2 separate regions of the Homo sapiens genome follow, and region 2 is linked to region 1. The links come from fine-mapping of genetic effects on gene expression. A gene starts in region 1. The other region holds a variant in brackets. All regions are shown on one strand. Distances are from middle to middle.

Region 1 (2,859 bases):
TGTGTACTAAAGAATTAAAATGTAAAGGCGAAGTGTCAAAATATCTGCAATTAATTCTCCAATCGCGGGGCTGGGAGGGAAGCATGGGAGCAAACAGAGCAAAATGCTAACTAGTGGTGAATCAAGGTGACGGGCATCTGGGCATTCTGTACCGTGTTCTTGCAACTTTTCTGAAGGTTTGAACTTCTCAAAAGACAAGGGGCAGGGTAGACAGCTGCTGCAGTGTAACTTTGTAGAGAGGAAACTCCCGCGTCTGGAGCTCATTCCCGCGTTTCTTCAGTCCGTCCTCTTTAAGGTCGCCACTCCGGGTCTTGCTTTTAAGCCTCTTCACGGCAACGTTCTCAGCCTCTGACGCCCCATATGCCCGGCGCTGATGAAAGGAACGAATGGGATGCCCGCAGCTACCCTGACAAGTGATTATTCTTATGACGATTTTGCAGAGAAGAAAATTGCGTCTGGGCCGAGTCGATACGATCACAAGTTGGCGGGGCAGAGATTCGAACCCACATCTAAGGACGAGCTCTGGGCCTGACTGGTCCGCACCGCGTCCCTGCATCAGTAACGAGGGGTCGACGCCTCCAGGGCCAGCGTTCCAGAGCTCCGGCCCGAACCGCCCACCGCGTACGGGCGTCACCTGGAATGTCTAATGCCGACGTTGTACCCTCACGAAAACCCCATCTGAGAAGGGGAAACCGAGGATTCATCGCAAGGCCAGAAGGTGGCCTCTCGCCGCCGGACCCCGGCGCCCGCACGCTCCCCTAGAACCGCTTCCTCCCCAGCCAGCGCAGGCCAGGGTCCAGCCGCGTTGCCGCGGAAACCGCCTCCCAGCACCACCCGCGGCAGTTAAGCCAACGCATGCGCAGCCGCGGGGGGCGCCCGGGGGCGGGGTGCCGATGAGAAGCCGCCGGGGGCTGCCGGGTACTTTTCTGTCCAGAAACTCGACGCCGTCCTGCCCCAGCCCAGCCCGACCCCCGTTTTCCTGTACCTGTTGGTAAGAGAATCGCTGCTGCTCCTCGGTCTCCGCCTCCTCCTCCATCACTGCGGGCCGACCCTGGGCAAACGCAGGAGGGCCGAGAAGGGGCGGTGGTGCGCGGCCAGGTCGGATTTTCCCGCCGCGGCGCGAGCGACGGGCCGCGCGGGCGGACAAAGTACGCAGCTCCGCCCTGCCTCGCGCGCCCCCTGGCGGCGCTCCGTTGAGGGGATTCCGCCGTCGGCCTCCAGCCAGCCCCCTGCTCAGCTTGCTCTGCGGAGGTGGCCGGGCGACGCGGGGACATGACCACCGAGGTCACTGCTGCACCCCAGAGCCTGATTCAGCGCCTGGCACAACGCTGAGCACCACTCTCCGCGAAACACGTGTGCGCATAGGTGCAAAGCGTGTTCCAGTCGGGTGTAGAGGATGCGTAGCCCACGATTTACAGATCATGTAACGCAGTACACATTATCAGGAGCTCCATGCACCTGTACCTCAGGTGTATCTTGCAAAATCGACCATCAACTTTATCATTCTATCACCAACAATAGCGTCACAAAGACTACAATGAGTGAACGACCCGTGACCTCATTCAGCGAGTGGAACAGGAACTGCGTTGTTGCCATTGGCAGGAGTATAGTTCTGACACAAGTGTTACTGTTTTTCCTTTATGTTAACGATGAAGTGAGACCATCAAACCCAATTTTGGTTTGTTTTTATTGTAGTTTTTTGAGAGGCAGGGTCTCACTCTGCCGCCCAGGCTGGAGTGCAGTGGCACCACCAAGACTCACTGTAACCTCCACCTCCTGGGCTCAGGTGATCCTCCCACTTCAGCCTCCCAAGTAGCTGGGACCACAAGCCTGCATCAGCGCACCTGGCTAATTTTTATTTTTTGTAGAGACCAGGTCTCACTATGTTGCCCAGGCTGGTATCAAACTCCTGGCTTCAAACAATCATCCCACCTCAGCCTCCCAAAGTGCTGGAATTACAGGTGTGAGCCACCATGCCCTGCCTGTATTTCTAGGTTTTTGTTTTATTATTTTTTATTGCCTATATTTCTGTATTCTGCATTTGTCACAAGCAGGTGCTACTTTCAGAACGAAGGAAAGCACATAAAGCCACTCCTTGTCTTCCTTTCCCAGGGACGTCCCTCAAGTTCCCTAAGCTTGCCAGGGGCTGAAACCCAGATCAAAGCTTTTTGGAGGAATCAGCCTTCTGAGGACTTTCCTCTGCATCTGCTCAGTGGGTGGCATCTGGAAATGACAGGCACTTCTCGCCTCTGTCCACTGCTCTCTGTGGGCATCCCAGTCTACCTGGACAGTCCTCCTGCCCAAGCAGGGCAAGCCTCTGACGGATTCCCCTAATGGGCAGCATGGGGCTGGGCAGGGCAGGCCATCCAGAGTGAGACCAAGCCTGCAGCAGGAGAGAAGGCCGGTCGCTGGTTGGTGAGCAGCCCCATTTAGAGCACACTGTGGCTGCAAAGCCCAGCTCCCTCCCTTGAGCCTGGTGACCCCAAGCAAGTCACAGGACGTGGCCAAGCTTCATGTCCCTTATTTATCAACTGGGGACAGTAGTTCCAACTTCACAGGGCAGGTGTCAGGTTTTAAACAATTGCCTCACATAAGAGCTAAAGAAATTGTAACAATTCGTCCCAGGAAGTTCCTGTGCTTTGTACCTGTGTGTTCCCTCATTTTAAAGCAGTTGCTTCCCAGGATTAAAGAACAGTATTCCAGTGACATGTGTGCAATACAGAGGCACTTAAGAGCCTCAGAGGCTAGGAGCAGTGGCTCATACCTGTAATTCCTGCACTTTGGGAGGCCGAGGCAGGTAGATCACTTGAGGTGAGGAGTTCAAGACCAGCCTGGCCAACATGATGAAACCCTGTCTCT
Region 2 (2,906 bases), 36 kb before region 1:
TGTCCAGCATCATCCTCCTATCAGAGGAGGACCTCCAGGTAAAGCCTCCTCCACAACCTGCAACAATGTTCATCCAGCCTCTGCCCCCCGCCCCAGCACCTTCTTAGCTTCCATACTTGCCATAGCAATTTCTTTGTTTTAATCTTAATTTTTAAATAATTCTTAAATTACAACTAAGATTTTTCATCTTCTCATTCTCACCTAGAGTAATTTTTCAACCCTCGTCACGAAGCAGAATTACCTGTGGATTTTTTTTTTTTTTTTTTTTTTTTTTTGAGACACAGTCTTACTCTGTCGCCCAGGCTGGAGTGCAGTGGTGCAATCTCAGCTCACTGCAGTCTCCACCTCCCGGGTTCAAGCAATTCTCCTGTCTCAGCGTCCCAGGTAGCTGGAATTACAGGTGCACACCAACACGCCTGGCTAATTTTGGTATTTTTAGTAGAGACAGCGTTTCATCATGTTGGCCAGGCTGCTCCTGAGTTCAAGTGATCCACCTGCCTCAGCCTCCCAAAGTGCTGAGATTATAGGCGTGAGCCACCGTGCCCGGCCAGATTTTTTTTTTAATACAAATGCCTGGGATCCACCCTAAACCTAGTTAGGTGGACGCTGGGGTCAGGGATGCCCTGCTAGAGAATGTAGCGTTGGAGTAGATGGCTTCACATCCCAGCGCTGTCACCACGACTTTGAGCCAGTAGCTTAGCTTCTCTCCTTGTGTTTTCTCTCTAGTAAGATTGGGATAGGCCAGGTGCAGTGGCTCACGCCTGTAATCTCAGCACTTTGGGAGGCCGAGGCGGGCAGATCACGAGGTCAGGAGATCGAGACCATCCTGGCTAACATGGTAAAACCCCATCTCTACTAAAAATACAAAAAATTAGCCGGGCCTGGTGGTGTGCACCTGTACCTGTAGTCCCAGCTACTCGGGATGCTGAGGCAGAAGAATCGCCTGAACCCAGGAGGTGGAGCTTGCAGTGAGCCGAGATCGCACCACTGCACTCCAGCCTGGGTGACAGAGAGAGACTCCATCTCAAAAAGAAAAAAAAGATTGGGATAAAAACAGTATGTTTTCATTCAAAGAAAATTTCTCTTTGAGACAGGGTCTTGCTTTGTCACCCAGTGCAGTGGCATGATCATAGCTCACTGCATCCTCGACTTCCTGGGCTCAAGCCATCCTCCCACCTCAACCTCTCAGGTAGCTGAGACTGTAGGCTTGCACCACCACACTGCGCTATTTTTTCTTTTTTTTTTTTTTTAATTTTTGTAGGCCAGGTGCAGTGGCTTATACCTGTAATCCTAGCATTTTGGGAGGCCAAGGTGAGCAGATTGCCTGAGTTCAGGAGTTTGATGTGGTAAAACCCTATCTCTACAAAAATTAGCTAGGTGTGGTGGCGTGTGCCTGTAGTTCCAGCTACTCAGGAAACTGAGGC[A/G]GAAGGATCACTTGAGCCCAGGTGGTCAAGGCTTCAGTGAGCCATGACTATACCACACCAACCTGGGCAACAAAGCAAGACCCTGTCTCAAAAATAAATAAATAAATAAATAAAGCCAGGCGTGGTGGCTCACACCTATAATCCTAGAACTTTGGGAGGCCGGGGCGGGCAGATCACGATGTCAAGAGATCAAGACCATCCTGGCAAACATGGTGAAACCCCGTCTTTACTAAAAATACAGCCGGGCACGGTGGCTTAACGCCTGTAATCCCAGCACTTTGGGAGGCTGAGGAGGGTGGATCACAAGGTCAAGAGTTCAAGACCAGCTTGGCCAAGATGGTGAAATCCCGTCTCTACTAAAAATATAAAAATTAGCCAGGCGTGGCGGCAAGCACCTGTAATCCCAGCTACTCAGGAGGCTGAGGCAGGAGAATCACTTGACCTGGGAGGGGGAGGTAGCAGTGAGCAGAGATCACGCCACTGCATTTTAGCCTGGGAGACAGAGCAAGACTCTGTCTCAAAAAACAAAAAAATTACAAAAATTAGCTGGGCGTGATGGCGTGTGCCTGTAGTCCCAGCTACTCAGGATGCTGAGGCAGGAGAATAGCTTGAACCCAGGAGGCGGAGGTTGCGGTGAGCCGAGATCACGTCATTGCACTCCAACCTGGTGACAGAGCAAGACTCAGTCTCAAAAAAAATAATTAATTAATGTTTTATAGAGAGGAGGTCTTCACAGGTTGCCTAGGCTGGTCTTGAACTCCTGGGCTCAGGCAGTCCTCCCACCCTGGCCTCCCAAAGTGCTGGGATTATTGATATGAGCCTCTGTGCTTGACCCAAAACATATTTATTGAGCCCCATCCTGTGCCTGTCATGGTTCTATGCACTGGGTGTGCAGTGGCGAACAAGCCAGACACAGTCTCTGCTCTAACGGTACTTGTATTCTGATGAAGGGAGGCAGAAAGCAACAGGAAAGCATATCAGACAGTGGTATGCAGAGAGTGATGGAGGCTACTCTAGACTGGAACACGGAGGAAGGCCTCTTTGAGGAAATGATTTCTTGGTGTTTTTTGTTTTGGTTTGGTTTGGTTTGAGACAGGGTCTAGCTCTGTCACCCAGGCTGGAGTGCAGTAGTGCAATCTCAGCTCACTGCACCATCTGCCTGCTGGGCTCAAGCGATCCTCCCACCTCAGCCTTCCAAGTAGCTGGGACCACAGGCGTACTCCACCATGCCTGGTGAATTTTTATATTTTTGGTAAAGACAGGGTTTCACCATGTTGCCCAGGCTGGTCTTAAACTCCTGAGCTCAAGCAGTCCTCCTACCTCAGCCTCCCAGAGTGCTGGGATTATAGGTGTAAGCCACTACACCCGACCCTTCTTCCCAATTTTAACACTAAAAGAAAATTAGAAAAATTGGCCGGGCACGGTGGCTCACACCTGTAATCCCAGCACTTTGGGAGGCCGAGGCGGGTGGATCACAAGATC

Which allele goes with the higher level. Positions count from the first base shown, and alleles are read on the strand shown. Sizes are in standard deviations (SD) of each study's normalised expression.
For the expression in nucleus accumbens of the gene that starts at base 1,121 in region 1, allele G in region 2 goes with a lower level than allele A (moderate effect, 0.66 SD a copy in GTEx).

The links. PIP is the estimated chance that this variant, and not a neighbour inherited with it, causes the effect.
Region 2: its variant is the best candidate, but not a certain one, in a credible set for the expression of CENPS in nucleus accumbens (GTEx, PIP 0.62).

What each region holds. Positions count from the first base shown.
Region 1 is chr1:10,428,695-10,431,553 of GRCh38, reverse strand. CENPS (centromere protein S) reads right to left here and starts at 1,121. Exons shown (of 5, transcript NM_199294.3): 1 at 986-1,121. The coding sequence starts at 1,036. CENPS-CORT (CENPS-CORT readthrough) reads right to left here and starts at 1,121. Exons shown (of 4, transcript NM_199006.3): 1 at 986-1,121. The coding sequence starts at 1,036. RefSeq lists an enhancer at 474-523 and a silencer at 774-1,023.
Region 2 is chr1:10,464,322-10,467,227 of GRCh38, reverse strand. DFFA (DNA fragmentation factor subunit alpha) reads left to right here. Exons shown (of 6, transcript NM_004401.3): 3 at 1-38. Among named protein-coding and RNA genes, the nearest start is that of DFFA, 6.8 kb to the left of the region's middle. The variant A/G (reference allele first, on the strand shown) is at 1,425.